5 separate regions of the Homo sapiens genome follow, and regions 1, 2, 3 and 5 are each reported to be linked to region 4. Evidence: microRNA targets listed by miRTarBase, many of them from high-throughput screens and not tested one by one. Region 4 holds a microRNA gene; each other region holds the end of a gene's coding sequence.
What was found. The annotated mature microRNA hsa-miR-186-5p reads CAAAGAAUUCUCCUUUUGGGCU and lies in region 4 at 1,730-1,751, opposite strand. An mRNA with a match to its seed (bases 2 to 7 or 8) in the 3' UTR can be bound and repressed. Matches are read on the target gene's strand: a 7mer-m8 pairs with bases 2 to 8, a 7mer-A1 pairs with bases 2 to 7 and ends in A, and an 8mer does both.

Region 1: the mRNA of MED15 is a reported target of hsa-miR-186-5p. The part of its 3' UTR that is shown has no 7-base or 8-base seed match.
Region 2: miRTarBase lists SAT1 as a target of hsa-miR-186-5p. Seed matches in the 3' UTR shown: 7mer-m8 at 4,538-4,544.
Region 3: the mRNA of CLDN23 is a reported target of hsa-miR-186-5p. The part of its 3' UTR that is shown has no 7-base or 8-base seed match.
Region 5: miRTarBase lists ZNF324B as a target of hsa-miR-186-5p. The part of its 3' UTR that is shown has no 7-base or 8-base seed match.

The regions. Positions count from the first base shown.
Region 1 is chr22:20,586,063-20,592,147 of GRCh38, forward strand. It overlaps MED15 (mediator complex subunit 15), which reads left to right. Exons shown (of 18, transcript NM_001003891.3): 18 at 506-1,557. The coding sequence ends at 642. LOC124905084 (a long non-coding RNA gene) reads right to left here and starts at 2,832. Exons shown (of 3, transcript XR_007068013.1): 1 at 2,745-2,832; 2 at 1,767-1,899; 3 at 1,526-1,684. It also overlaps the pseudogene CCDC74BP1.
Region 2 is chrX:23,784,383-23,790,722 of GRCh38, reverse strand. It overlaps SAT1 (spermidine/spermine N1-acetyltransferase 1), which reads right to left. Exons shown (of 6, transcript NM_002970.4): 4 at 5,294-5,395; 5 at 5,163-5,203; 6 at 4,513-5,037. The coding sequence ends at 4,867. Among named protein-coding and RNA genes, the nearest start is that of SAT1, 4.4 kb to the right of the region's middle.
Region 3 is chr8:8,702,280-8,708,405 of GRCh38, reverse strand. CLDN23 (claudin 23) reads right to left here. Exons shown (of 1, transcript NM_194284.3): 1 at 4,310-6,126. The coding sequence starts at 6,007. The coding sequence ends at 5,129. Among named protein-coding and RNA genes, the nearest start is that of CLDN23, 3.4 kb to the right of the region's middle. RefSeq lists an enhancer at 5,676-6,126 and a silencer at 6,117-6,126.
Region 4 is chr1:71,065,952-71,072,291 of GRCh38, forward strand. It overlaps MIR186 (microRNA 186), which reads right to left and starts at 1,765; the gene lies at 1,680-1,765. ZRANB2 (zinc finger RANBP2-type containing 2) reads right to left here. Exons shown (of 10, transcript NM_203350.3): 6 at 6,170-6,304; 7 at 4,876-5,045; 8 at 3,325-3,411; 9 at 825-983. It overlaps ZRANB2-AS1 (ZRANB2 antisense RNA 1), which reads left to right. Exons shown (of 3, transcript NR_038420.1): 3 at 815-1,233. RefSeq lists a silencer at 2,552-2,601.
Region 5 is chr19:58,455,646-58,461,985 of GRCh38, reverse strand. ZNF324B (zinc finger protein 324B) reads right to left here. Exons shown (of 4, transcript NM_207395.3): 4 at 4,153-6,340. The coding sequence ends at 5,407. Among named protein-coding and RNA genes, the nearest start is that of ZNF324B, 7.2 kb to the right of the region's middle.

The DNA of each region.
Region 1 (6,085 bases), not on the chromosome of region 4:
ACGTCAGCTGTCCAGGGTGGTTGTGTTCAGTGGGTGAGGGGTGAGTAAGCCCATGGCTCAGGGACAGTCCCCGCTCTTCCCAGAGGCCACTAGCTTCCCAGAGGCCACTACCTTGGCAGGGCTGCCAGGTTCCACTGGTAGCTTGGGCACACAGGGCCCAATCTGGGTGCTGTGGCTCCAGAGAGAACCACGGTGGCAGGGGGCAGTCTCTGAGCCCAGAGCTGGCACACAGCAGAGCTGGCACACAGCAGAGCTGGCACACAGTAGAGCCAGGCTGGGTCCCCAAGGTTGTTAGAGGCAGAGCCCTAGATCCTGTTCAGATTTGGTTCTCACTGACGATGAGGCTCTGGGAGGAGAGCCCAAAGGCCGGGCAGCGTGCAGGACACATCACCTCCTGGTGCTTCGGCCCGCGCCTGGGGCTACCCCTTCCCAGAGCACTGCCGGGTGTGCCAGGAGCGAGCGCAGCGCCGGCCGCCTTAGGTTCACGCCCACTGCTCTGTTGCAGACGCCAACCCCTTCCTCCAGTCGGTGCACCGCTGCATGACCTCCAGGCTGCTGCAGCTCCCGGACAAGCACTCGGTCACCGCCTTGCTCAACACCTGGGCCCAGAGCGTCCACCAGGCCTGCCTCTCAGCCGCCTAGCCAAGACTGCAGGGATGGCCCGCAGCCTCATCGGGGCCAAGGACACACGCCTCCTGTCAGACACTTCTAGGTGTTGGCTTCCTTAGAGAGCCTGGGGTTAGGTTAGCTTTCCTGCTTTTATCTTCTGCCTTGGGGACCTGCCAAACGAAATCCCACACCTGTACAGAACTGGGATAGGCGCAGTGGAGCGGGTTGCTTGGGGGGCGTTGGCCGACTTCTTAGAGAAGGCCCTCCATGTGACTTCCTCCCAGGAGCCAGATGCGATCCTCAGGCTGCTCTCACCGTGGCCTGTCCACGGTCCAGGTCCATCTCAGCAGCGTGAGGGTGCACTCAGGGTGTTGTTAGAGCGTCTCGTGTGTGCTAGACGCACCCCTACTCGTTCCTATAGAACACAGAGGACATAGGAAACCCTTAAAACACACATGGGATTCTCTGGTCACAGTTTTGGGTTCAGGCTATGCTGCTTTGGGCAGGTGGAGCACCCCCCGAGGAAGCCTGCAAGTCCAGGGCACAGGCTGCCTTTTGGAGGGAGGGCTGGCCCATAGGTGCTGCTGGCTCCCCGCCACCAGCTGGGCCTCAGCCCTCACGGCATTCCTGCTGAGCACCGTGGGGCACCCAGGGAGCAGGGGCGTCAGGGATCCTGCTGCCGGCACCCCTGTGCCGCTGGCATGAGGGCCGTGTCCCCACTGTGAAGGATGAAGAGCAAGGCCCTCAGGACCCGTGTCCTCAGAGCACCACACACTGAGCACCCAGAGACAGCGGGCCTGGCAGCGGGCCGGGCCATGCAGGGAGCGCCTCCCTATGTTGCCTGCCACTCTGGGCACCGGCCAGCACCCTCTGGTGAGAAGAGGTCCCCCCTTTTTATGTGCACTACCCCACCATCTGTGATTATAATAAATTTATTATTCCTGTGTTTGTCAGTTGTTCATCACTGTGTCCCCTTCTCCATGAATCTGGGCTCGCTGTCCTGTCAGGATGCTGTCAGCCTTGGGGCTGCCTGGGGCCTCTGCCTCCCTTCCAGGAGGGACTTGAGGTGCTGCAGCTGAAAGGCAGGGGCAGGGGTGTGGTGGGGCCTGCGGTGGCACCAGGCTGCCCAGGGCCATCCCCACCACCCAGGGCCTCACCTCTTGGGCCTGCAGAAGGTTGGTATTCCACAGCTGGTGGATGACCACTTACACTGCTGAAGTGTGGTGGGCTTTCGCAGGTGTGGGGACAGGATCATCGGGGAGTGCCATCATCTGCCTGTCCCTGTGCTGGCTGCCCACCCAACAGAAAGCCCTGGCGTTAGAGGCCTCTGCTTCCCTGTCTCTGAAAGTCATTACAGTAGCCAGAAATGACCTGCCCAGGTGGGTCTGAGCATCCAGGCAGCATACTTCCCCCAGGCAGTGCCCAGGCCAGTGTGGGGAACAGGGCCTGGCTCCCTTCTCCCACTGACCAGAGTGCTCTGGGTGCCAGATGGGGGTCTCGGACTGGGGTCTGTCCCTTCCTCCCCTCTGAAGGTGCCCTGAGGGTCAGATGTGCTTCAGTGGGTGACCAGCTAGCTGCCAGGCTGCCCTTAGTCAGGACCCTATACCCAGTGGGGCTTCTTGCTTCAGGGCTGGTCTCAGGGGACGTGCAGAGATGCAGGAGCCTGTCCTGCTGGTTGCACCGCTCAAAATGTGCACTCTGCAATGTCTCAGGGCAGCCCGGCAACTCGGGGAGTACCAGAGCCTGGTCCTGCTCTCCTAGTCCCCTCCAAAGGCAGGCTGTGGCCAGGGGCAGCAGGCACTGACCAGCTCCATTCTAATCAGGCCCAGGAACACAACTCACTTTTCTTGGTAAAAAGATTACTTTGTTTTCTTTTCTCTGAGAAAGTGGTTTAGGGGCTGTTGCTGCCCCCTCTTGTGGGCTCAGGTCAGCACAGGTAATCTGCAGGACTCCAGGGGAGGGGAGGAAGACAGCGCCCACCCAATGGACAGAGTGTGGACAGAGCGTGGCCATTGTCTGCTTTCATGAGCCCTGGAGACAGGATCCTAGAGCAAGGGACACAGCAGTTTGCTGACTGCAGTGTGGGAGCCTAGTAAATGTGGTCCTGGGGCCCTTAGGGTGCAGGCAAACCTTACTTGGACTGCCCTTGCACCCCAGGAACTTTGTCCAGCTTGCTGTTGTGAAGCAGTGGCTCCTCCTCAAGGTCTGCCTTCTGGGGTACCTTAGAGTACCCCAGTGCTTTAGAGTCTTGTTTCTTGAAGGAACCGGCTGGGGCCTGTCCTTTCCTTGAGAGTTGGCTGCAGGTCAGACCCGACAGGGCCAGTCACTGCAGGCACCAACAGCCGCTGCCCAAGTCTTTCAGGATCAGCTGTGTGTGCCCAAGAAGCCCCTGCCTCAGTTGCCTCCTCTGTAAAGGGAAGCCTGCCTTGGAGGGTTCTAGGAGGAATAAATGAGGTTCTGAGGATGAAGCCCATGGGTGGTGCCTGTGAACATTCTAGAACAGTCAATATAGTGGAAGCTGGCTCTGTTTTGGGTAAAATAAAACTGCATGCGAGGCCTGGGACTAAGCCTGCATGGGTTTCCTCTGCAAGGACAACGCCCATGGCACGCCTGGGCTCATCACAGGAACAATAGGGGCCAGGGTTGGGGCCAAGGAAGATGCCTGGTCTCGAGCCACTCCCCGCTCACTCTGCAGAAGATGCCATGAGCCCAGGGCTCCGTGGGCAGTGCCATCCCTCCTGTATCCTGTCTGCTTGTGGAGGGGGACGTGGGCCAAGCAGGGCCTCTGCCAGGCAGCCAGTGTACGTCCTTCCCCCTAGAAGGCCACCCAAGGAGGCCCCTTCTGACCGCTTGCTGTGCTGGCTTGGGGTGCCTGCCATGAGGCCTTGCTGCCCTGCGTTGACAGCCCCTGTGACTGGCCCCCAGTCCTGCCCACCCCACCCTAGGCCCCTCCTGGTGGTTTCAGCTTACAGGGCTCCCTTCAGCTGCCCGTTCACCCCCAAATCCTTGAGGTTGGCCCAGCAGAGGACTTTCAGCTCCCTGGTCAGCACCTCTAGTGACCACCCAGGCTGGGGTCCCTGTGGGGCACTTGCCCCTGTGAGCACATGGAGGACACCAGCCTGCTCACCTGACACCATTTAATTCGAGGTGGAGTTGACAGGCTGGAAGTTGCCACCCGCACACCTGCCTGAGGGAGAAGCCCTCCGTCTGCCTGCAGGCCTGTGTCCTCCCTGCTCTACCCACACTCCACTGAGGCAGCCCCAGACCCACCGCGCGCCCAAGGGAGCAGAGGCCCCGGAAAGGTTGTTTCCTGAGGGGCCATCCAGAAAGCGGGAGGGCTTGGGACCCATGGAGCAGCAGGTCCGGAGGGAGAGCATGGCCTCTTCCCGTGTCCTGTCAGGGTCCCCAGCACTGCAGGGCCACACTTTGCCCAGAACAGCTCACTGGAGTTGCCACCGCAGCTAGGGAAGGGCCTTCACTCAATCCCATTCTCTGTGTCTCCCTAGAAGGGAGAGCCCTGGACAATGCCCCAGCTGGGATGTTCCCAGGCTGGTCCCATTCACCAGTCAGATGTCCTCCTGATGTCAGCCCCGGCCCCAAAGGTAATAGAGTGAGCTCAAGAACTCAACCAGAATCCTGGGCTGGGTGGGGGCCACCATTGGGATGGGGAAGTGCCTTGGACAAGTGGCAGGGAAGCAGGACTCTGGTTACTCCCCCCACCCCCATCCCCACAGTTGTTGCTGAGATGGCAGGAAGGAATCCCTGGATGGGGTGTGCCCGGAGCCCTTCTCCCAGCGTATCAGGAATCAGAGCCACAAGGCTGGAGATCCTAGGCCCAGCCACAGCAGCAATCTGAGGCAAAGACCCAGCAGGGTAGGGGCTGTCCCAGAGTCCCCTCCCATTTCAGGAGCTCTGCTTGGAGGAGGGAAGGTCTGGGAAGCACCCTGTGCCCACCATCACCACTGCACTGACCACAGCCCTTGGGCTTCCTGAGAGCAGCACGTGCTGTGCTTGGCTGTATAACATCGTCCAGCCATGGCTAGGGGCAGCAGCATCTGTCCAGGTCCCTCAGAACCTGTCCTCACTGGGTTGGCATACAGAGGCCAGTGCAGCCAGGTGGGCAAGGACAGTCTGGAGGGGCTCCCCGGGGTGGCAGGAGCTTCCCATCAGGCACGAAAGGGCCCAAGTCTCACCTTTCTCCTGTGACTCATTCATTATGAGCTTGTAATGGGGATCTGAAATCAAGCGCATGCTCTTCTCATCACTTGTGAAGCCACAGCCATTCTAAGAGAAGCAGCTTGGGCTGTCCACTACCCCCTGCTGAACCCCGAGAGTCCTGGCTCGCCACTGGCTGACTGGGCCCTGCCCCACAGGTCCCGCTTTCCACCACACCTTTGCTGTGGGCATGTGAGGGCAGGAATGACCCTGCCTGTTCCCTAGGCAGAGCCCACCCAGCACATCAGCCTCATCCTCCCATCTGACTACAAGACGCCCATGGTGCCAGGCAGGACCTGGGCCCCAGGGGTACAGGGGTGAACTCTGGGAGCCCCTGGCCATGGATGAGCATGGTCAGTGTCATGATCCTGTGGGCATCAGGGACTGGGGAGAGGCTCAAGAAGACATGGGGAAGGGGGATCCTGACATAACAGATGCCTGGTGATGGAATACTTAGCACCTAGGTAAGGCAGCACCAGGGAGCGGGGAGGGAGATGAGGCTGCAGGCACTGGTGCCCTCGCTGGAGCCTCTGCTGAAGCAGGGAGGGAGGAGCGGAGCCACATCCTGGCGGGCCCTCTTTCTGCTCTGGTGGGCAGTGGGGGTGAGGAGCTGCTAAGGGTGCAGTTAGGAAGGCCCAGCCCGAGGACAGTGTGGGCACAGGCGAAGCCGGGGGCATGCCTGCTCCTGATCCGGCATGTTTAGTTGGAGAAAATTCACTCAGTTGTGCACCGGCACTGGGCATGTTTTCCTTCTACGAAGTTTTTAACAGATGTGTACCTGACCCTGCCTGGAGAGGGGAGGGCTGGCAGGGTCAGCGTTTGAAATGATGCTGCCCCCGGCGGGACAGGCAGACAAGGAGGGCACCGCCCCGGGCCTAGGCGGGTCTCCGTCCTGGGGCAGGGGAAGAGCTCAGCATGGCAGGACCTAGCGTGGGCTTGCTGCCCTGTGTCCTCCCTGAGCCCAGGCAGGTGCTGGAGTTCATGTGCTGCGTTTCTGCTCTGCGGGCCGCCGCCGTGTTCAGGCGCTTGGGGAGGCAGGGCAGGCCTAGGGCCCTGTGGCTGGGCTCACCCTTGTTCTCCCACTTCAGATGCTCGATCTTCTAGTGGAGCTTGGCCAGCAACTCCAAGGACTGCTGCTGTAGGAACTGCAGGCCCAGGTCCAAGTCCAGGATCTGCCTCTGCTGGTCGATCTGGACACCCACAGACCGGCGGCACTGCGGGGGGTGCGACGTAACCTGAGATCCCGGGGACCAGCTGGGAG
Region 2 (6,340 bases), not on the chromosome of region 4:
TAGAATCACACAGAAACACCATATTCAATCATTCTTATAGAAACTGTGAGGTCCTGTGAGACTATGGCAGGAAGCCCCAGGGGTTTGAGAAATTGGTTTGGAGCTTGATTCCCAGGTCTAGTTGTGTGGCCTTGGGCAACTTAACTTCTCTTAGGTTTAGTTTCTCATTGTAAAAAGAAACTTATAATTGTACCAATCTCATACAGTCGTTGTGAGAATTAGATGAGATAATAATGTATACAAAGTGCTAAACTGAAAGCCTGGTTCCTGATTAGTGCTTAATAAATGTTAGCTCTTATCACTAGTTTTTTTCTTTTTCTTTTTTTTTTTTTTTTTTGAGACGTAATCTTGCCCTGTCGCTCAGGCTGGAATGCAGTGGCGTGATCGCGGCTCACTGCAACCTCCACCTCCCGGGTTCACGTGAGCCGAGATCGCGCCACTGCACTCCAGCCTGAGCAACAAAAGCGAAACTCTGTCTCAAAACAAACAAACAAACAAACAAACATGGCACCAGTCAAGGAAATAGAATTCTAGGAGCAGACATGGTCACCTGCAGACTCAGAGGAAGGCCATGGCTGTCACAGTCAGTGAGGAAGTTGCTTCACTCCTAGCAGGAGAAGGTGGCTGGTTTCCCAGGGCCTGGCAGTTCCATCAGTTGCTGGTGAGCAGCCACCTGCTTCAGTGAACCGTGATGAGCATCATCCATTCTAGGCCCTGCTGGGTCCCCAGTGGAAAGGAGACTCACAGGAAGGGGTAGAGTGGGTCGAAGGCATTAATAAATCATTAGGTTTCTTCTGAATTGCTTCTTCAGCATTTCTGTAAAAAAGACTCTACTTTCTTTCCCTAGAAAGACTACTGTGTGGAATCTAAGCGGTTGATGATCTTGGACTCTGGTTTTCCATGTTTATCATTGTTTGTTGTTTCTTTTCAGATAATTTCCCCGTAACATGTTTTCTTACTTGCCTGGTGACTTCAAACTTTATAGATTTGCTTTATAGTTCAGTTTTTAAAGAGGTCTCTTTGTAATTGAGTTGAGCTAGTAGTGGGCTAATGCTGTGGTGTTTCAGCTTCTTCTTTTTTTTTTTTTTTTTGAGACAGAGTCTCACACTGTTGCCCAGGCTGGAGTGCAATGGTGCAATCTCTGCTAACTGCAACCTCCACCTCCTGGGTTCAAGTGATTCTCCTGCCTCAGCCTCCTGAGTAGCTGGGATTACAGGGGCCTGCCACCACCCCGGGCTAATTTTTTGTATTTTTAGTAGAGACAGGGTTTCACTATATTGGCCATGCTGGTCTCGAACTCCTGACCTCGTGATCTGCCCGCCTTGGCCTCCCAAAGTGTTGGGATTACAGGCGTGAGCCACTGCTCCCAGTTGGCGTTTCAGCTTCTAAATTTTACAGCTGGCTGGGCGCAGGCTCATGCCTGTAATCCCAGCTCTTTGGGAGGCTGAGGGGGGAGGATCATTTGAGGCCAGGAGTTGGAGACCAGCCTGGGTGATGTAGCAAGACCTCATCTCTACAAAAAATTAAAAAAAAAAAAAAGAAAAGCTGGGCGTGGTGGTGCGTTCCTGTGGTCTAGCTACTTGGGATGCTGAGGTGGGAGGATTGCTGGAGCCCAGAAGGTCGAGGTTGCAGTAAATTGTGATTGCACCACTGCACTCCAGCCTGGGCAATGGAGTGAGAACCTGTCTCAAGAAAAAAAAAAAAAAGAAAACAACTAAAAACAAATAAAAATTAAAATAAATAAAATTTACACTTAAGGGGCTTCTTTAAAGTGGATACAAAACTTCATAAAAGCCTTCATCTTCACAACACTGGGCCTTTAAGGCTAAGTTCTAAGAAAGATGAGGAAACAAAGAGTTATATTGTAACTTGGTGGTTAATTTAATTTATTCCTATATTTAACCACAGTCAGCATGTAGTTGTTTTCCTCTAAGAGGCTCACTTTCCAAAACACAATTTGCAAAATATCTTACTTCTCCACAAGGCTCTTTGTGTTTAGTTACCCTTTCATTTTTGCCAGAGTTTCTCTTATGTAGTTACTTGCCTGCCTAATAGGGCCCCTGGTTGATCATTGACTCTGTAAGCCCATTTTCATGGCATGCTCTCTGAGCCACCAATAAATCCCAAAGCCCTCCTGTATTAAATATAATACAGGGCTACATTTTTATATGTGGCTGCCTTCTAATCTAGGAAGCCATAACAGACACTGATACAAAGGCTTGCAGGACAACATTACCTTTGACTGAGGAGCTCAGTACTGATTTGCTGGAGAACTCAGAGAGATACAGAGCATTGTTTTCAGGTATCTGACTTCTTTTGGAAAACATTTATCTTGGACATTAGTCTACAGTGGTTCTTATCAACTACTGTTTTCATTATTGTGGAAATTAGTCGGTTTAGGAATTTGGGCCAATGTCATGAATAATGAAAGGAGTTCACATATCTAGGGGGAAATGGTCTTTTTCTTTTTCATTTCAGTCCTTAAGAAAGCACTTGTTTACTTCTTTACCCCCTGGCAGTTTTAAGGGCTATTGTTTCTCTGCTCTAAAAATCCGTTGTATTAACACAGGACTACAAATTCACCCTCCAAATGAGATGTTAATTTATCTGATTTATGCTTGTGTCCAACTGGAGCTTTTCTGTTTGCAAATTTCCTGTAAAAAAATGTGTACTTTTTCAGTACACATAGGAGACCCTAATTTCAGTGATCCGCTTTACCTTCAAAATTATCTTGGTCAGGTGCCATGGCTCACACCTGTAATCCCAACACTTTGGGAGGCCAAGGCAGGAGGACCTGAGACCAGCCTGGGCAACTTAGCAAGACCCTGTCTCTACTAAAAATAAAAAAAATTAGCTGGGCATGGTGGCATGCAGCTGTAGTCCCAGTTACTTTTGGGAGGCTGAGGTGGGAAAATTGCTTGAACCCGGGAGGATAAGGCTGCAGTGAGCTGTGATCACACCACTGCACTGCAGCCTGGGCGAAAGAGTAAGACCTTGGCTCTATTAAAAAAAAAAAAAGTCTTGGCTGGGCACGGTGGCTCACGCCTGTAATCCCAGCACTTTGGGAGGCCGAGGCAGGCGGATCACGAGGTCAGGAGATCAAGACCATCCTGGCTAACACGGTGAAACCCCGTCTCCTCTAAAAAAAAAAAAAAAAAAAAAAAAATTAGCCAGGCGTGGTGGCGGGTGCCTGTAGTCCCAGCTACTCGGGAGGCTGAGGCAGGGGAATGGCGTGAACCCGGGAGGCGGAGCTTGCAGTGAGCCAAGATCGTGCCACCGCACTCCAGCCTGGGTGACAGAGCAAGACTCTTCCTCAAAAAAAAAAAAAAAAAAAAAGTCTTGTGTGGCATGAGGTTTTGGGGGACAAGATGTTCTTTCTTGATTTTCAGTGTTTCATAATCCCACCTCCACATTTTACTTGTGTAATGATGAGTTTATTCATTGAATGAGACCTTGGCTCTGTTAAAAAAAAAAATCTTATGTGGCATGAGGTTTTTAGGGACAAGATGTTTTTTCTTGATTTTCAATGTTTCATAATCCCATCTCCACATTTTACTTGTGTAATGATGGGTTTATTCATTGTGGGCCTCAGTTTCTAACTTGGTTTTCAGCTCTTGAAAATTCCGTCAGGCCAGGCGCAGTGGCTCATGCCTGTAATCCCAGCACTTTGGGAGGCCGAGGCAGGCGGATTATGAGGTCAAGAGATCGAGACCATCCTGGCTAACACAGTGAAACCCCGTCTCTACTAAAAAATACAAAAAATTAGCCGGGCATGGTGGCGGGCGCCTGTAGTCCCAGCTATTCAGGAGGCTGAGGCAGGAGAATGGTGTGAACCCAGGAGGAGGAGCTTGCAGTGAGCCGAGATCGTGCCACTGCACTCCACACTGCCCAGGCTGGGTGACAAAGCGAGACTGTCTCAAAAAAAAAAAAAAAAAAATCCATCAGATGCAGTGTATAGTGTCATCAACATAAAAAGCCGTTTTGCCGGGTGCTGTGGCTGACCCTTGTCATCCCAGCACTTCGGTAGGCTGAGGTGGGTGGATCACTTGAGGTCAGGAGTTCAAGACCAGCGTGGCCAACATGGCAAAGCCCCGTCTTTACTAAAAATACAAAAATCAGCTGGGTACGGTGGCACATGCCTATAGTCCCAGCTATTCAGGAGGCTGAGGCATGAGAATTGCTTGAACCCGGGAGGCAGACGTTGCAGTGAGCTGAGATCGTACTACTGCGCTCCAGCCTGAGCAACAGAATGAGACTGTGTCTCAAAAAAAAAAAAAAGTCATGTTTTACATGTTGCTATGTATAAAACCTTGATAGCCAACTGGTAAACTGGCTTCTATCCAGACTTTGTTAATACTAACATAACACATGACCATAAAAACTTTAAATTGGGTTAAAAACTATTTTGAGCAATTCTGTTCATCCAATGATGTTTGCGGGTCATTTTTGTCTTCAACAGCAAGAAAGATGTGTAAGAAATAAAGAACTAGTAAAAATGCTTACACCAAACAATTAAATCAAAGAGTAGTTTATTAAAAAAGAATCAAACAGAAACTCTAAGTACCAGTGTGTACATTGTACACATTTAAATGACTCACGAGAATGAAGTTTTTTTCAAATATATTAAGATCACACCACCTTGTTGTTTATCGAAAGATATTCAAGGAGAAAGATCTGACTCTCCAAACTGCATCTGAGATTGCCACTTTAAACAGACCTCATTTCAAACATGCAACAACGCCACTGGTAATAAAGCTTTGGAATGGGTGCTCATTCTATTATTTCACTACAAACAGCATAGAAAGCAAGAGAAGTTGGGAATTTATTCTAAAATAGAATGGAGGTTGTCATCTACAGCAGCACTCCTCACTCCTCTGTTGCCATTTTTAGCAAGTACTCCTTGTCGATCTTGAACAGTCTCCAACCCTCTTCACTGGACAGATCAGAAGCACCTCTTCTTTTATAGAAGTTGATGGATGGTTCATTCCATTCTGCTACCAAGAAGTGCATGCTGCTGCAGCGACACCTCATTGCAACCTATTATGAGAGAGTAAAACACACACTCAGTGACATTTCAGCCTGCTCTCAAGACCCAATTTTTATTCCATCATTAAAATAATCCAGTAAACTTACAAATTTGGAAACCAAAAACTAAGACATACCTGGCTTAGATTCTTCAGAATTTCTGATCCTATGCCAAAGCCTAAAAAGAAAGAGTACAATTTAAAAAGTCATTGTAAGCATTTATAACTCTGAACTCTCTTCAGACCCTCTGCTCCGAACTCAATCGTACCTCTATAATCACTCATCACGAAGAAGTCCTCAAGATACAATAACTTGCCAATCCACGGGTCATAGGTAAAATAGTACATGGCAAAACCAACAATGCTGTGTCCTGTAATAAGAGCATCACATGAGATGTGGAGAAGGAAAACATTCCATAAAAGTTGCAGCTGCAGAATCAGAGGCCTATCATAGGTTTTAAAAAACACACATGCATGTATTACAGAAACAAGTAGCCATGGCTGTCTCATGATTTTTATGTGAGTGCAGTCCAGGCCACTGCTGGATGATCTCACTGTTCTGAGAACATGTATTTGCAAAAAGCACACATCAGAACTCACTGAAGTCAGGCTACAACTGTGGACTGGCCACTCTGCAGTCTGCTGGAGCTCACACTCAGGAAGCGAGAACGCTTTCATTACTTGCCAGAGCAAAACTGCTATGGTTTTAAACTCAACACACACATTATTCACATCCTATTGGTATACTGGTATGTTGACTTGGGAATACGTCAGGTTTACACGGCAGTTCAGAATAGTAAATATTTGGAAGTTTACAAACTCTTGCTTCCTTAAAGGTCAGAACATCAGGCCAAAGTACAACGTTTAATTTCAGAACTTGCCTTCCAATTTACGCATTTTCAATTTGCTCTCCCCATTTGTTGAGTCAGAAGAAGCAGCATTGCCCAGAAACAGGTATTACGTAACATGCACATACTCTAAAAAGTACTCATCCCTTGTTTTCTGCTCATTTCTTCCAGCCTGAGGAACAGACGTCAGAAAAAAAGCAACCACCCAGACAACTTCCCCTTTTAGCTGAGCTGTCTTCTGACCAATCAACAGGGACCAGCCAAAAAAAAAAAAAAAAAAAAGGCATCTGACACCCTCTTAACTGGTGTCTACTATTCCAAATGGAGGCAAAGGTTTCAAATTAAACTTTCTAGCCATTTTATATTCCTTAGCAAACAGACAGGAAGCGAGTATCATAGTGGGTTTCTGATCTACCGTGTTTGAAGTGTGTGATAATAGGACCTTACCTCATTTATCATGATCATCTA
Region 3 (6,126 bases), not on the chromosome of region 4:
TCATTTGGTACCTGTGAAAGGCATCTCCTGGCTTCCCAGGCTCTCAACCCAGCTTATTGGTCACATTGCTTTACAAGAGGGGCTGCTGGCTCACCTTGTCAGCGCCTTGGTATAACTTGGGCCACCAGTAGGACAAGAGTTAAATGGGTTCAATCAAGTCTTAAGCCATTCTCTCCATGTGCCACTGAAGAATCAAGTCCCCTTGTCAGCACTGTCCCCCCTGCTAAGCTCTGTCTATATTTTCCTTGATTTGAACAAATGAAACCTCATTTTCATGTGTTCAGTCCTGCTTAGTGGAGGACTATTCACACATGAAGTTGCTTATTTTTTGCTTACATGGTGGCTCACGCCTGTAATCCCAGCATTTTGGGAGGCTGAGGCAGGTGGATCTCCTGAGCTCAGGAGTTCGAGACCAGTCTGGGCAACATGGAGAAACACACTCTCTACAAAAAATGCAAAAAATTAGCCAGGCGTGGTGGTGTGTGCTTGTGGTCCCAGCTACTTGGGAGGCTGAGGTGGGAGAATCGCTTGAACCTGGGAGATTAAAGCTGCAGTGAGCCAAGATCATGCCACTACACTCCAGCCTGGGTGACAGAGGGAGACCCTGTCAAAAAAAAAAAAAAAAAAAAAAAGAAATTGCTTATTTTTGATTCTGGAAATGTTACCCCCCCAAAATCAGGGTTTGTTGGTCCGATGAATAACAAACCACGCTCCTTGAGAACGCAGGTGTGTGATCAATAGGAGTTTTATTACTTGGCACAAGGAAGAGGGGCACTGGGATTATTCTCCAAAGCAGTGTCTCCCAGAGGGAATGTGACAGGAGGGTTTTAAGGGGTAATGGAGACAGGAGGGACTGCGTCGCATGCCGAGGAGGGGTCCCAGTGGCACCAATGCAGTGAGTCCTCATGCCAGCACATAGGTCGCATGTGGTTGCTGCTGAAGCTGCTCTTCCCCTGGGGTGGAGACTATAGAATGGCCATGAGGAAAGTTCACCGAATTCATCTAAAAGTTGTTGGGGCCTGTCAGGAGCTGCTTTAACCTGCTGGGTGACCACGCAGGGTCTAGGAAGAAACAGACTGCAGGGCACGAGGCTGCAAAACAGGCTGATTGCTCAAGTTGATTAAATTCCTAGAATCCCCAGAGACCCTCCCTGTCTGCTTATGGAAATATTCTAGAAGACAGGGTGAATTTGTTCCAGATGGTATTCCCTCTGAAAGAATCTGTTAGCCTGGCAAAGAGTAGATGACAAGGTTGACTCAGGGTTACTCCGTTGTACCACCAGCTGCTTCTTGGCCTTACCACCCGATTCTAGAAAGAGAAGCAAAACTAGCTGGTAGTAAGACTGAGACGCCCACCTGTTTTCACATTTTCTCTAGTGGAAACTTGAAGTTGTTCCTTCTGCCTAAAAGGCTCCTCTCTCTCTTCTTTCAGTTCTCTGCCCAAGTACCTCCTTCTTCTTGACCACTTTTCCTAAAATATCACCTTTGGCCAGGTGTGGGAGCTTTCACCTCTAATTCCAGCACTTTGGGAGGCCAAGGTGAGAGGATCACTTGAGCTCAGGAGTTCGAGACCAGCCTGGGTGACATAGTGAGATTCTGTCTGTTTAAAAAAAAAAAAAATTAGCTGGGTGATGTGATGCATATCTGTGGTCCCAGCTACTTGGAAGGCTGAGGCTGGAGGATCCACTGAGGTTGGGAGGTTGAGGCTGCAGTGAGCCCTGATCATGTCACTGCACTTTAGCCTGGGTGACAGAGTGAGACCCTGTCTCCCAAAAACAAAACAAAAACAAAAAACACCTTTCTTCCTCCATCCCTTGATTTCTGGCTTAATCTTTTTCATTTTATTTGTACATGATCACAGGAGATTATTTAAGTTCCACACAGAATGGGCCTGGATGGTATTGTTTTTCATGGTGCCCACAAATGTGCTGGCAAAATGTCAGACGCTCAAAAACATACTGGGTGAACGATCTACACAATGAAGGGAAGGATGGTTGCCAAAGCACCCTGACAGCACCTCCCGCAGCCTCCACGGTGGAGAACCAGCTGTGTGCTCAAAGCCACACCCCTCCTTGGTGAGGGCGTGTGTCCAGATAAGAGCCAGATTGGCGAACGGGTAGAGCAGGGATGTGTTAAAGCAGTTTCTGCCTTACCTTCACAGAACTCACCGTCCTCCTGGCATCACTTGAGTAATCTAGAAAAGACTTCATCCATTCAATGGGGACTTATACTTCCTTTGGGGATTGGGAGGATTAAACATGAGTCTGGTAGGTCAGAGGGCTTGATACAAGACAGAAGTGCTTTGAGTGTGTTCTCTGTGGTGCAGTTGCTGGGCTGGTCAGTGGTAAGTTTAGGAAAAGTTTAGGATAAATTCTTGCCCACAGCAGCAACTCCTGAGACTTGCTGTGGCAGAGAATGACCCGCAGGGCAAACGTGGATCCCAGACTGATGCAGGACTCTCTTTCCATGCTCTCCTGAACCTTTTTTTTTTTTTTTTCTTTGAGACAGAGTCTCGCTCTGTCACCCAGGCTGGAGTGCAGTGGCACCATCTCGGTTCACTGCAAGCTCCGCCTCCCGGGTTCACGCCATTCTCCTGCCTCAGCCTCCCGAGTAGCTGGGACTACAGGCGCACGCCACCATGCCCGGCTAATTTTTTGTATTTTTAGTAGAGACGGGGTTTCACCATGTTAGCCAGGATGGTCTCGATTTCCTGACCTCGTGATGGGCCCACCTCGGCCTCCCAAAGTGCTGGGGTTACAGGCATGAGCCATCATGCCCGTTTTTTTTTTTTTTTTTTTTTTTTTTTTTTTTTAATTTAAGAGACAGTCTCGCTCTGTTGCCCAGGCTGGAATGCAGTGATGTGCTTTTAGTTCACTACTGCCTTGAACTCCTGGGCTCAAGTGATCCTGCTGCCTCAGCCTCCTAAGTAGCTAGGACTCTAGACATGTTGCCACTATGCCTGACTAACTTTTAAAAATTTTTTTGTAGACATGGGGTCTAGCTATGTTGCCCAGGCTGGTCTCGAACTCCTGGCCTCAAAGCATTCCTTCCACTTGGCCTCCCAAAGCACTGGGATTACAGGCTGTCTTGAATATTTCTATAGCAAAAAGGAGTTTGTATTTTTAAAGGAGGAGTTTTGGCTTCGTTCTCTTGATAGGGGAAAAGTAGAGTTTTAACTCCCAGCAACCGAATCCTAATCCTCAGGCAGGAAATGTTTTGCATATAAGGCAGTGGAGAATCATTGGGATGGGGAGAAAAGCAAAACACACAAAAGTTTTGTGTGTTTTTACCAAAGCTTCCCTGGAGATAGAATTATGATGCAGCCCAGACTCACCATTTGCCAGGAGCCCAGTACCTGTACGGTGTCTGCTAGGTGCTGACTTCTCAGGTCCCTAATTGCTGCCTTCGGAGGTGTTAGTGGAAAAGAGCCCTGTTGCACTTTCTCCCTTTTGGCTCTGTACCCTCGAGCAAGTCCCCAAGCGCATCTCGGTAGCAGGCACTCAAAGGTCTGAATATGAGCCACCAGTTGGGATTGAAATTTGAGTGAGACAGTCCCAGCGAAAGCCTTGCAACTCCAAGTGTGGTCCATGAGCCGGCAGCATTGGCATCTCCTGGAAGCCAGTTAGGAAATCTTTTCAGGGCCTCACTCCAGATCTACTGAATCAGAATCTGCATTTGAAAGAGATTCCAAAGTGATACCGCCTACACGTTAAAGCCTGGCTTCAGAAAGAGAGAAAGAAGTGATTCCAGTACCAAATGGCAAGGGAAGTGAATCTCTGTCATCCCTTCCACTCTAACAGGCAGCATGTGCTATTAAGTTAGCCTCACTATAGCTATTATCAGTGCTTGCTGAACTGAATGAATGTTCCTACCTCTGAACGGCAGGTTTTAAAGAAGAGATTCAGTTCGGTTAAAGGTACCCTTAAATCAACCACTTGGAATTGAAGCCAGCCCTGCTGGAGACCCAGTCCCCTTCATGGAACACATAGCTGCCTTCCTGTGATTCTAAACACCACTGCTACAAAGGAAAAGATTTCCAGTCTCACCTCAAGTGGAAACTGGTGCTTCTCGTTTTCTCAGCAATAGACTTGGCTTTGCACAGAAATGGCATGAACCTAAAACCAAAGCAATCAGGGACTTAAGTGGGGCCCGTTGGCTTTTTTTAGTAACCTTATGCTAAGAGGTGCAAAGATTTGAGTGCTAGATTTCAGACACAAGTGCCGAGGCAGCCAGGAAATTGTTAGTAATGAATGTTTAAACTCCCAAACGTTGTACTGAAGACAAAAGAGCTTTTGTGGCTATACTGAAACTATTGTTTTAAAATTTTATTTATAAATAAAAGATATATACATATGTGCTTTAATATGATTAACAGGTTCCATTTTGTACAAAATGTTAAACCTAGAGTCCTCTGCGTCCTGGATGAGGCGTCCAAAGGGTGGAATAGTACAGCATTAGGACCTTTGTTCTCCTCTTGGCTTCTGGAAGAGAAACTCTTGCATGCCCTCGACTTTCACCGCAAAAATAAGTGAGAAAAAAGATAAATCCCATTTATGCAATGATATGTAGCTATGAGTTAATCACGGTATTTCATTCCATGAAATCCATTAAGCTGCTGGCATTTGCATGGCTCTAAGTTTATTTTAAGAGGCTCATTCAAACATGGCCAGGAATATATTGGCCTCTTGAGAGTTTGCATGGCAAGGAGTTATACAGCAGGAAAAAGAAAAAAAACCCAATAATTATATTGATGCAAGATTCATCAGTATTTTAGAATATTGTCGTTTCAACATGTTAAATTGTTTCTGAGCACTGCTGATTTCAGCACTGTCCCTGGTCCACGTGACGCAAATGCCACCCTTTCCATATATTCTTCAGCAAAAATATATGAAAAGCCCGTCACTCCCTAAGAGGACCCTGATCCCTCTGGAGAGGAAAACTAAACTCTTTAAGAAGAAAACCAAACCCAACCTGAACTAATCGTCCAAGGAGTCCTGTTTGGTCCCACGAAAGGCAGATTTCCATCCACACCAGTGAGGGGCAAGTGTCCGGGTTCCAACTCGAAGCCAGGCGGGCCTGTGCGGGGGTGAGTCCTTTGCCACCCGGCGCCCCCCAGGCTCTACAAGCGTCTAGAGGTCGGAGTCGCAGGGCAGCGAGCTGTCGCAGGGGTGGGTGCTGCACGAGGGAGCGTCCTGGGACTCCCACCCCTCCCCGTCGAGGACGTCCACCGAGTTGGTGTAGGCCTTGGGCCGCGGCCGCGGCATGGGGAAGCCGACCTTGGGCTTGGGCTTGGGCTTGCGGTGCTGGGCAGGCGGCGGTCGGTGCTGGCCGTCGCTGTAGTACTTGATGGCGGGCGCCAGGTCGGGCTCGGGCCACTCCACTTGGATGGTGCTGACGCTGCTGCGGCGAGGCCCGGCGGAGGGTCCCTTGCGGCGGCGGCGACAACGCTCGTCGCACCAGGGCGCGAAGCTGAGCGCCAGCGAGAAGCCGCCCAGCAGCAGGAGGCAGCTGCCCAGGTAGCCCAGGACCAGGCTGTAGCTGACCTGCACCGTGACCGGGCTGGCCGGGGCGGGCAGCACGTCGCGGTCCCCCAAGAAGTGGTTGTACCAGGACACCGGGATGAGGCCGAGGAGGCCAGCGACGAAGAGCACGACGCCCGAGAGCCCTGCCAGCACGAAGTTGGGCTCGTCCTGCCAGCAGCGCACGCCCAGCGACGCCAGCAGAAGCCCCAGGACCGTGGCGGCCAGCGAGGTGACCATGAGTGCCCGCGCCACCAGCACGGGCTGGGCCTCGAAGTAGCCCCACTGGTCCGTCTGGCCGCACTCGCGCTCGCGGCTGCTCTGCTCGCGACACATGTCCCACAGGCCCTGGTACAACTCCACGTCCACTGGCTGGTTCAGGAAGCCCTTCACCAGCCGCCAGCCGGGCGCCAGGGTGCCGGTCAGGTTGAGCAGGAGCCCGCAGGGCGCCAACACCATGCCCAGCGTCATCACCACCGGCGTCCGCATCCCGGCCCGCCGCGCCGACGGCGCCCCTGCAGCCTGCCTTCCTTCTCCGCTGTCGCCTTCTCCGCCGTCGTCTTCTCCCTGCCGTGCCCCAGGCTCCGGGGACCCGAAGTCAGCGCGGA
Region 4 (6,340 bases):
GTGAAGAAGCAAAACTAATCATTCTGTACAAGTAGGAATCATGAGATAATCCTACCACTGAACCCAGCAATTAATAGACTTTACATAATCTTTATTTTCACAAGCTAATAAAATATGAAAAATTTGCAAAGACTACAAATAAAGCCATTAAAATGACTATATAATTGGGAACAAAGAGAAAATTAATGAAACTGAGTAATTAGCCTGTTGCAGAAAAGGCTGACAGATGACAGTTGCATTCTTCCAATATTAAAAGTGTCAGTACAGATAAAGTAACCTAATATAGGCCTTTCTCAAAAAAGATTTGGACTGCAAAATGAAAAATGTATTAGCTACAAGGAATAATTTCCTTATAGACAAAGGGCATGAAGCAATTTGCTGTGGAAATGCATTTACACATATTTAAATGAGGACAGATTCCCAATGATCTGAAAGTTAATTTTTTATTAGATGCTCTAGAATTCTTGACTATTAGTATTTAAAGAAGCCTAAGTATAAAAGTCAACTCATAAATTACTTCGACATACAGCTTCTGAATTGCAATCTCAAAAGACAGAAATAACCGAGAGTTGGCTATAAAAATTATAAATGGAACTAAAAATTTAAACAATAAAATGATCAAAGAATGGTTTGATCTACAATTCTAAACAACCTGATCAAAGTACAAAGGATAAGCAAAGTAATGTTTTTTTGAAGTTCAAAGTTGAAAAGTAGAAAGTCGGAACACAAGAGATAATAAAAATCTAACCCTTGACTAGGAAAGTTTACTTTATCTATTAAACACACTTAAGAACACCCATTCTTATTTCTACAGAAACCCAAACCTTTCGGGTGACCGTGATCTTGTTCGTCTTTTTTTGCGATCACCAGATGAAGAAGATCTAGAACGACTTCTCTTTCTGTTCCTCTCAGGAGAAGATGATGAACTTGAATAAGATCTTTTTCGTGGGGAAGAAGAGCCCCTGTGGGACCTGGAGCTGGATCTTCATTGATTGAGAAACAAATCAAACATTTCATTAAAAGAAGAAATAAGGAAGATTATTTAGTTATCAGATAGCTCCAAAAATAAACAGGATTTATAACAACTATGAAAATTTTATAAGGAAGAATACTTACTGCTTATTCAACAGAAGACTTCTGGATCAACCATGAAAACATTCTACTTAAACATTTTAATTTTGTCTCTTTAAAATTCTATCATGTGTAATTAAAACCCTGCTTACTATATCAAAATAGAATTTAAACTTTTTTTAAGGCTTTTCAAAGTATACACAAATATTATAGTATTATAAAATCAGCAGATAACTGCATTAACAGGACTTTACGTTTAGGAACTACATCCTTCCATTTGAGGATTAAAATATGTATCTTATATACCACTTCCTGAGGAAAATAAACATAATTCCATGTGGAATTATTCAACTCATTAAACTGTTATGGAAAAACCAGGTATATGGCACAGCAACAAAAGACTAGTAACTGTACTTAACTGCTAAATATTCAAGAAGAAATAAAAACTAACTTTAAGATGATTTATATTTACAATACTATTTTTATGAAAACCCACTACTTATGAAATATGAAGTGTTGACATTCACATGCTTCAGGTAGAAGTAAATGTGCAAATGTTTAAATACAAATTTTTTTTCTTCACTTGTATATTTTGGTTGAAGGAATTTAGCTCAAACTTCCCAAAAAATTCACCTTTGGGCTTAAAATAAAACCAGAAAGCCCAAAAGGAGAATTCTTTGGAAAGTTACAAGCAATGAAAAAATGTTTGGGAAGAATATGATGGGTGTTCTGTAAACCTTAATTATAATGGTTCCCAAAGGGAATACCAGAACTTAAGGATTTTTACCTATAAAGCGCTTAAATATTGTTACTAAATAATGGTAACAATAAAAAATAATTTGCTCTCTACTTCTATTTTTTTTTTTTTTTTTGAGACAGGATCTTGCTCTGTTCCCCAGGCTGTGGTGCAGTAGCATAAGCATGGCTCACTGCACCCTTAATCTCCAGGGCTCCAGTGATCCTTCCACCTCAGCCTATAAGAACACACCACCATGCCTGGCTGGTTGTTTTAATTTTTATTTTTAGTAGACGAGGTCTCACTATATTGCCCAGGCTGGTCTTGAACTCCTGGGCTCAAGCAGCCCGCCCACCTTGGCCTCCCAAGGTATTGGGATTACAGGCGTGAGCCACTGAGCCTGGCCTTGTTATCTATTTCTTATTGGCTTATAATGCAAGTGTGCACAACATTCTTTTCTCCTTAACATGATTATACTGTGGCAGCCCTTTAATGCTAAATTTGATTCAAAGCAGCAAATACTTTTACCAAAACAGCCACAGTTAGACTTCAATATGAATTTCCACAAATATGGAATTTCATTTTCTTATTTATTTTTTAGATGCCTTTAGGTCATAATAAATTAACTTAAAAACAAAGAGAGCATATTTTGACTAAACAAAGAAAAATTTCCTGCAAGAGCATCTTTCAAATTATGTTTCCCTCTACAGATGTGACTACATGCAACCTGAAACTTTAGAACACTGTTTACTACTTAAGACCACATCCTATCTCAACTAACCGACTATACTTCCTGATTTAGTTTTGAGTGTTTTGTGCTCTATAAATAATAGCGTGTGTAAAATTAGAAAGGAAAATGTATATACAGTACTCTAGTAACTTTATCTGATATAAATGGCAAATTTGTTTCTGAAAATATTGAAACAACTGCCGTGCAAAACAGGACCTGTTTTGAGGCAGGGTTATTTTTCTTCCTTTTAATAATGAAGAAAATTTTTCTTTTTATTTACATATGTAATTTTATTTGAACTACTATTAATTTTTTTTTTTTTTGAGACACTCCTCTGTCACCCAGGCTGGATTACAGTGCTGTGATCAAGGTTCACTACAACCTTGAACTCCTGGCCTCAAGTGATCCTCCCACCTCAGCTTCCCAAAGTGCTGGGATTATAGGCATGAATCACTGTGCCTGGCCATATATAATCTTAATATACTAGAGATGTGGCGATAAGACTTGGCTTCATCTTCCTACTTCATAACATCTTAGTGCCAAAATAATAAACGCTGCATATTGCAAAATAGCCACCTGATTTCAATCATGGGAATGTCTTGGCACACTGCTGGCAATGGAAACATTTCATGGTGAGAAAATTAAGCTGAGGCAAGTGCATTAGTTTTCTAATGCTAAAATAAAATCGACAAGTAGAAGCAAAATAAGGGGAAAAAAAGCAGCAACACCTTCTGCAGCCTTTAAATATTTTTCTCTCTGCTTTACAGAGAGATGCTACCTCATTCACCTTGATTTCGACCCACGAGATCTCGAACGTTCTCTGGAACTGGAACGAGATCTTGACTGCGAACTGGAAGAACTTCTTGAACGGGACCTGGAACAACATGGAACGATTTTTTTTTTCCAGGACCATTTAATTGAGCTTTGTGATATGAACACTGAAAGAAAGATATGTATTAGAGTTCATTTTCATATAAAAAGATAACTATACAAGATATATACTTTCAAAACATAGTATTTTAAATTAGATAAGATTTAGTAACAAAAGGTAATTAAAAAAATATCACTTTCCAGGTGATTAAATTACCCTAAAGCCACTCAACTATAAAACAAAACATTATCACTTTATTACAAAAACAATGAATACTTTGTTTACAAGTAACTAGAAGCTACCCAGAATACATCCAAGAAAACAGAATGTTGCGATTTATACTTAATTTCTCTAAAATGTCTCCATCATTTTCCTTTATAAATCCCCTTCTATTTTTGTTTCTAGTTAGTACAAAGTTTTGAATGTTGGCATGTGTGTATTTCATCCCTATATTTTTCTGTTTACTCAATGCTTAGAGAATTAAAGGGAAAATGTATAATTCTGTCATTGTTAGGTAATTATATTATTGGAAAATATGACACAAGGGAGACATGGTTCGTACAAATTTTAAAACTCACAAAATTCATTAATCTAATTTACAACTATAATTTGTCCCTTATAATAATACCCTGTAGAAAAAGATCACTATATTTTTACCAAAAAATTACTAGTTATAGCCCCACTTTGTTAAGCTTTCAGGCTTTGTAGTGCTCAATTAACATATATCTAATTGTTATACACTAATATCTAGTATTTTATTCCTAAATATGATTAAAATTCATTGCCCATGCCATCACTTAACTGTGATTAAGGTTTTTCAAGAGGACACTGTTAAATTTAAATCACTGCTTTCACTCACCTAAAATTTTATTTTTATTGTTAACTATAAAATCAGAGATTACATATTTTACATCAACAAACAATATTCAAGTACACCAAAAGAGTTTTAGTTTACGCCTGGACTTCTCAAAATTATGAGCATGAAGTCAACAGAACTAATATGGCTGAATTTGCTCCGTTATTCACAATACTGATATCAAAGCAAACTATTAAAAACATTATGTAATAAGCAATGATTTAATGCCTAGAAAATTTCTGTGCTAGCCTTTAACATCTTGAATGAAAATACAGATCTCCCCTTTACTTAATTTCTATATGTAAGCTATCTCTTTAGATTAATTAAATATAAGTGTATATAAAAATTTAATTCAGTTTTTAAGTCTATTTTAGTCAAAAGCATGAGGCTAAAATAGGTTAAGGAAGTTTCATGCTAAGACTTTACTTTTCTAAAAATACTGGACAACAACTGTATGGTACTAAGCTGAAAAATTATTTTAAAAGTTGATTTGAATTAAATTTTTAAAATAAAAAGGAAAGTTTATTTCGTCAAGAAAAACAAAATTTATAAATAAAAAAGTTAGATACTGACATTTTGACTGGTGTTACCCTTGACCTGTACCCGTTTACCTGGACCTAGACCTTGAACTTGAGGGGGAGGATGAGCGTGATGAAGATCGTGAATGTGAAGATCGAGACTTTGAGCGACTTCGTCTATTAGATTTCTTTTTATTACTATCTTCTTCTTCACTGGCATCAAGATTATATTTTGAGAGATCAGCGTCATCTTCATCCTCATCCTAACAAAAATTCAATTATAATTAGACATTTAGATATTAGTGTTACCTACCAGGAAAGATAAAACAGTTAGGTGTACTGAGCACCTCCATATGCATATATCACAGGTATCTCAGCAAATTAATTCTGAATTCTAAAATTCACCTACTAAACTCATCTCAAATAGAGACTTGACAACTTTGTCTCAGGTATTGCACAGACATAAACCTGGAGGCCATACACACTTTTTCTGTCACACTTATGCATCACCCAAGAATTTTCAAGTCCACCTCCTTAAAAGTCCTTGAAATCACCATTTTTAGTCTTAGACACTCTGTTCCTTATTCTCTAGCATATTATAGTAACCTCTTAGCTGGTCTCCTCAAATCTGAAGATCCATTCTGCCTCTCTAGTATCTCAATATACTGACAGTCATCACTCTGAAACACAGGACAGATAAACACATCTCACTTTTTTCTTAAAAACTTCAAAACTGGCTTATTATTTCTTTAGTTGCATTCCAAGACCTCTTATGATCAGGCTCTAAGGTACCCTTAACATGGCATAAAACTTACACTCTGGCCTGACAGAACAAGTATCACCAGACCTGAAATGTGTGCTGTCCCCCTCATCTCATTCTCCCCTCTGCTCTAACTATACTGGCCTATGTATGGTATTTTTGAAGGCTGCTGGCTTATCTCCTATTTAGGGAACCCGTATTTGCTGTTCTCTGCCTAAATGTGCTCTCACCTCGGCTCTTATTGCTGGCTCCTTCCTATCATTCAAGTTTCAGCTCAAACTTCACCTCCTTAGACATTATCCATCGGCAAAACCAAAGTTGCTTTTAAACTGTTATCACATCATGTGTCTTCATAACGTTACTGCTATCAAAATTACCTATTTATATATTTCCTCCTCTAGAACTGTGTAAGAGAAAACTGGTTCTGTTTCGGTCACCACTGTATCTCCAGAACAGTAGTGTTCCAAGTACAAATAGTACTTGGCAGAGTGGAAATCCAAAACCTTTGTGAGAACAAATGAAAACACAGAATATATTTTCACCAAGTGTCTGAGGCTGTCAAAAGCATTCATGTTATGGTATAACTCCAATAAGACAAAAGGGAAATAGGACAAGAAAATTGTTCACCTCATCTAACTTATATTTAGAAAGATCTTCATCCTCATCCTCTTCTTCTCCCTCTGATTCTTTATCTTCAACTTCCTTTAATATAGATGCAGGACCAACTGCTTTCCCTCTGTATTTTTTCTTTTTACGTCCAAACTAGAGAAAAACAATTTCAAAATGCTTGTCAGCTGA
Region 5 (6,340 bases), not on the chromosome of region 4:
GGAGAATGGCGTGAACCCGGGAGGTGGACCTTGCAGTGAGCTGAGATCACGCCACTGCACTCCAGCCTGGGCAACAGAGCGAGACTCCATCTCAAAAAATAAAAATAAATAAATAAAATCAAGGATTCCACTTTAAAATGGAATCTTGAGGACCCCACAAGATGGAAATACCACAGGACAGGGCTGTGTTTCCACAGTGCACCTCACTGCATGGACATTCCCTGATGCTGGTGGGACACCCAGCACCAATTAGCCCACTCTGTGATCTGTGATCAGCCCATCTCCCAAAGGATTCTTCCCCCTTGGTGATGAGTGTTTCTATAAGTCTCCAAGTGTTCAAACCATACTTTTCTTATTTAAACATGCAAAGGAATTAGTACACCCTGCAGTAATAACCACTCACTGAAAACAACTGCTATCAGCCAAAACTGCAGCCCTTGCCAGTAACTTGCCAGCCAGTGCACACCCAAAGATCATGTTCTTTCATAGAACAAAGTAACCCTTGGTACCCCCCAAGCCAAAAGGTCAGAGAACTCAGTGTAAAAGAGATCAGAGCTTTAGACCTAAGATAAACTGCCTGCTACACTTAGGATTCCATGAGGAAGACAGAAGACTCCATAAAAGGTGTATGTGACACTTTACTGTGTTCCTCAAAGGGTCTCAGAGATATTAGAAGACTCCTCTAGATTTCTTTATGTGGTATCAAAGATAGCTAAAGGAAGAAAAAGTAGAAGAAAATGGGAGAGCTCTAAGCCAATTTGGGGAGATTTTAAGTTTTTCAGAAGGCCAATAAAACTTTACATCATACTAACAAGAAAAGAAGCAAACAAAGGGACTAAACATATGTAAAAAGGGGTTTCAGTCAACAGAAAAAAAAAAAATTCCCAGAAACAGGCTCCAAATGAGAAAAAGCAGAAAGGTATTTTTTCTTAAAAAAAAAAAAAAAGCCTGAATATCAGCTTTTAATTAAGCTGACATCTGACCATAGAATTCATTGTATTTTATTTACTTACTTTTGTGACGGAGTCTCACTCTGTCGCCCAGGCTGGAGTTTGCTATAGTTTCATAGCTCACTGCAACCTCCGCCTCCCAGGTTCAAGTGATTCTCCTGCCTCAGCCTCCCAAGTAGCTGGGACTACAGGCACGCACCACCATGCCTGGCTAATTTTTGTATTTTTCAGTAGAGATGGGGTTTCGCCATGTTGGTCAGGCTGGTCTCGAACTCCCAACCTCAGGTGATCCGCCCACCTTGGCCTCCCAAAGTGCTGGAATTACAGGCATGAGCCACTGTGCCTGGCCTATAGAGCTCTTTTTAAAAAACCTTTCAAATATCTTATCAGAGTATAGCCTGCACAAACAGAAAGTAGGCCTCCCATCCAATTTGTCTGGTTTTAGAACAAACATATTAAGTTTCCTATTGTGCACACAAATATATTACTTTAGGAATTTCAAAAGATCTCCGTTTTGGCCACTGCATTTTAGGGTCATCTCGAGTGACCTGGGTCCATTTACCTAAGTTTTTGGAAATAGGATCTCCATAGGTTTCGAAGGGTGGGGGGGTTGCTCCTTAAGGGAAAGCTCAGTTTTCATGAGCAGTTTCAAATAATTGTAGAAATACCTTTTCAAAAGTGACCAAGGTTAGTACAGTGTATTTAGACGAAGTGTGTTGCTTTGTGAGCATCACTCCTCAATGAGTCACCAGTGAGTTGTGATTCACTCTTTTATGTGTCTTGGAATCTGTGATCACCTGTGTTGGCAGAGTGCTCAAGGTACCAGATGAACAACCTTTATGTGAATCTTCTGGCTGAGCTGAAAGCCCCTGAAGGTGTTCTTCTTGCAGAAGAAGTAGGGAGACCCTATGAGGCCACTATGCATCATGAACAAACATCCCGACACCTTCATAAATCTCTAGTCACCTAGAATTGGGTTTAGAGGGAGCAAGTGCCTCTTCACTCAGGGACAAGAGAACTGATATGGTTTGGATGTGTGTCTCCTCCAAATCTCATGTTGAAATGTGATCTCCAGTGTTGGACATGGGGCCTAGTGGGAGGTGTTGGATCATGAGGTATATTAGGCCATTCCTGCATTACTATAAAGAAATACCTGAGGCTGTGTAATTTATAAAGAAGAGAGGTTTAATTGGATCACTGTTCTGAGGGCTGTACGAGCATGGCTTCAGAATCTGCTTCTTGCTAGGTTCTCAAGAAGCTTACAATCATGGCAGAAGGTAAAGGGGGAGGAGGCATCTCACCTGGTGAGAGCAGGAGCAAGAGAGAAAGGAAGGAGGTGCCACAGACTTTTAAATAACCAAATCTTGTGAGAACTCACTACCTTGAGGACAGCACCAAGAGATTCAAGAGCGATCCACCCCCATGACCCAAACACCTCTCACCAGGCCCCATCTCCAACATTGAGGATTACATTTCAACATGAGATTTGGAGGGGACAAACATCCAAACTATAGTATGGGGGCAGATTCCTCATGAATAGCTTGCCACCATCCCCCTTGGTGAGAAGTGAGCTCTTGCTCTGAGTTCATGAAAGATTTGGTTGTTTAAAAGTGTGTGATGGGCTGGGTGCGGTGGCTGACACCTGTAATCCCAACACTTTGGGAAGCTGAGGCGGGTGGATCACTTGAGGCCAGGAATTTGAGACTAGCCTGGCCAACATGGCAAAACCCTGTCTCTGCTAAAAATATTATACAAAAATTAGCTGACATGGTGGTGCACACCTGTAATCCCAGCTACTCAGGAGGCTGAGGCAGGAGAATCACTTGAACCCAGGAGGCAGAGGTTGCAGTGAGCTGAGATCGTGCCATTGCACCCCAGCCTGGGCAACAAGAGCAAAACTCCATTTCAGAAAAAAAAAAAAAAAAGTGGGCCGGGCGCGGTGGCTCACGCCTATAATCCCACCACTCTGCTGTGAGGCCAAGGCGGGCGGATCACAAGGTCAGGAGATCGAGACCATCCTGGCTAACACGGTGAAACCCCGTCTCTACTAAAAATATTAAAAATTAGCTGGGCGTGGTGGCGGGCACCTGTAGTCCCAGCTACTCGGGAGGCTGAGGCAGGAGAATGGCGTGAACCCGGGAGGCGGAGGTTGCAATGAGCCGAGATCGTGCCACTGCACTCCAGCCTGGACAACAGAGCGAGACTCCTCAAAAAAAAAAAAAAAAATGTGTGACACTTCCCCCCCGCCTTGCTTCCTGTCTTGCCATGTGATATGCCAGCTCTTCCTTCATGTTCCATCATGATTGCAAGCTTCCTGAGGTCCCACCAGAAGCCATGCAGATGCTGGTGCCATGGCTGTACATCCTGCAGAACCATGAGCCAATTAATCCTCTTTTCTTTATAAATTACCCAGCCTTAGGTGTTCCTTTATAGTGACACAAAACAGACTAATAGAAGAACTCACCCTCATGAACCTTTCAGTTTGAAACAGAAATTGGTTACCATTGAAAAGACAAGACTGAGTTACAAGCAATAGGAAACAGCTGCAACTTTAAAATCATGGTATGTAGGCAGGCGCAGTGGCTCACGCCTGTAATCTCACCACTTTGGGAGGCCAAGATGGGCCGATCACTTGAGGTCAGGAGTTTGAGACCAGCCCAGCCAACATGGTGAAACCCCGTCTCTACTAAAAATACAAAAATTAGCCAGGTATGGTGGTGCAAGCCTGTAATCCCAGCTACTGGAGGGGCTGAGGCAGGAGAATGGCTTGAACCCAAGAGGCAGAGCCGAGGTTGCTCCACTGCACTCCAGCCTGGGCGACAGACTGAGACGCTTCATGAAAAACAAACGCAGTGGCTCACGCCTGTAATCCCAGCACTCTGGGAGGCCAAGATGGGCAGATCACCTGAGGTTGGGAGTTCGAGACCAGCCTGACCAACATGGAGAAACCCTGTCTCTACTAAAAATACAAAATTAGCCGGGCATGGTGGTGGGCGCCTGTAATCCCAGCTACTCAGAAGACTGAGGCAGGAGAATCACTTGAACCTGGGAGACGGAGGTTGCGGTGAGCCGAGATTGTGCCATTGCACTCCAGCCTGGGCAAGAAGAGTTGCCTTGAGACTCTGTCTCAAAAACAAACAAACAACTGAATCATACCCTGGAATAGAGACAGGAGGCTGTGCTGTGGAGGTCCACACGGCTGTAAAGGAAACTACATCTATTTGAAGTTGCAAATACTAGTCTTTTTTTTTCTCCATTGAAAAGACCATTAATTTCTTGGAGGTGAGGTCTCAGGTAAGGATGGGGCCTAGTAGGCTTAAGGCCACAGGAAGCAAATGACCCCCAGTCTACCCTTTTGTCTCTGCCATGCAGGCCCATCACACTGGGTTGGGGAGGTCCTCAGGAGGCTGTCACACATGGCCTTAGGTAATGGCAAGTCCTTCCTATTCAGCTCTCTGTCCAGCCTCCAATTGAGGAGGCATAACAAGGGAAAGGTGAGATGGAGGGGGTGGGGGTGGGGGCGGGGATCGGCCACCAAATCCAGCAAAAATGAGCAGCTCCACCTTATCTGCTCCAAAGCTATCACTGTCTCCACAGGTGTAAAGGCTCCTCCTCACATCGACTTTTGTAAATGAGTGAGCGACAGGCCTTGGCCAAGCTGAGACTTGGACGAAAACCTGAACGAGTGCCACTGGAAAGCCATCATCCTAGGTTTGTCCTTCCAATGCTGAGAACCATGGGCATTCCTCTCCTGAGTCAGCTGTGTGACCCCAGGCCAGGCCCTCACACCTGGCTGACCAGAGCACAGCCCAGGAGCTGGCAGTGAGCACACATTGACTCTCATTAGGATCCCGTCTGTCAGCATCTGCAAACATGATGCTGAGTTGACCCAAAGCTTTTCTTTTTCCGAGGAGGAGGCTGACACTCACAGGCCACACCCTGATCCCCAGTCCCCTGTAGTCTCCTGTTTGCTGAGATGGCCCCCAGGAAGCCTTGAATAGAGGCCTCAGGGGGAAAATGTCCTCAGCGTCCGTCTAGCGGCCAGTTTGTGTGCAGACATCATAAGTTTCTCTAGGTCATCCTACCCCATGTCCGCATCCCCCTCACCTCAGCATCCACTCTCATAACACATGAAGTAGCACCACCATGCAGCGCTGCCTTTGTCGGCGTCCTATGGCCCCAACTACAGCCTCAGCCCCACCAGAGTTCCAGCTGACATGTCCTCCCTCTGATGTTTCTGCAGTGTTACCTCTTTGAGGATGGAGGTGTGAGCTATGACTAAACTGGCAAATCCTGTCCCCACCTGCAAATGGAACCACAGCCAAAGGGTCTCCCTCGTCCCTGACTCTCAGGCACAGAGCTTTTCCCCATCGTGGATCTGAAGAGCACTCGGACCCTTTAGCTGTGGAAGGGATTCACAGAAGGCCAAGAAAGGGTTGGGCTGCGACCTGTGACCTCAGACCTTCGCTGGCTTCAGGACTGGGCTTGGCTTCCCTCCCCGGCGCACCTTCCGATGATGTCCCTGAAGGAAACCTGGCCCCGGGGTGCAGTCTGGTGCTGCGGCATTGGTCTTCTCTGTGGTGTGGATCCTCTGGTGGTGCAAGAGGGCAGGGCGCTCACGGAAGGCGCGGCCACACTGCGTGCACACGAAGGGCTTCTCGCCCGTGTGAATGCGCCGGTGGCTGAGCAGCACGGCGCCCTTGGCGAAACCCTTGCCACAGTCCACGCAGCGGAAGGGCCGCTCGCCCGTGTGCAGGAGCTGGTGCTGGGTGAGGTTGGAGCTGCGGCTAAAGGAGCGGCCGCACTGGGCGCAGGCGAAGGGCTTCTCGCCTGTGTGCACGCGCTGGTGCAAAAAGAGCGAGGAGCCCTGGCTGAAGGCAGCACCGCAGAGCGCGCATACGAAGGGCTTCTCGCCTGTGTGCGTACGCTCGTGCTGGATCAGGTGCGAGTTGCGGCAGAAGCGGCGGCCACACTGTGCGCAAGCATAAGGACGCCCACCCGCGTGGATCTTGCGGTGCTGGCTGAGGTTGGAGCCGTGGCTGAAGGCCTTGCCGCACTCGGAGCAGCGGAAGGACTTCTCGGCCGTGTGGATGCGCTGGTGCCGCACCAGCGAGGAGCTATGCCGGAAGGCCTTGCCGCACACGGGGCACGCGTAGGGCGTCTCGCCGCTGTGGATGCGCTGGTGCTGCGTCAAGTGCGACGTCTGGCTGAAGGCCTTGCCGCACTGGGTGCACTCGTAGGGCCGCTCCCCGGTGTGGGTGCGTAGGTGCTTGAGGAGGTCGGAGCTCTTCACGAACACTTTGCTGCACGCCCTGCATTCGAAGGACTTCTCCCCAGCGTGAAGAGCCTCGCCCAGCTCGTCCCAGGTCGAGGGCTCCTGGCCACCGAGG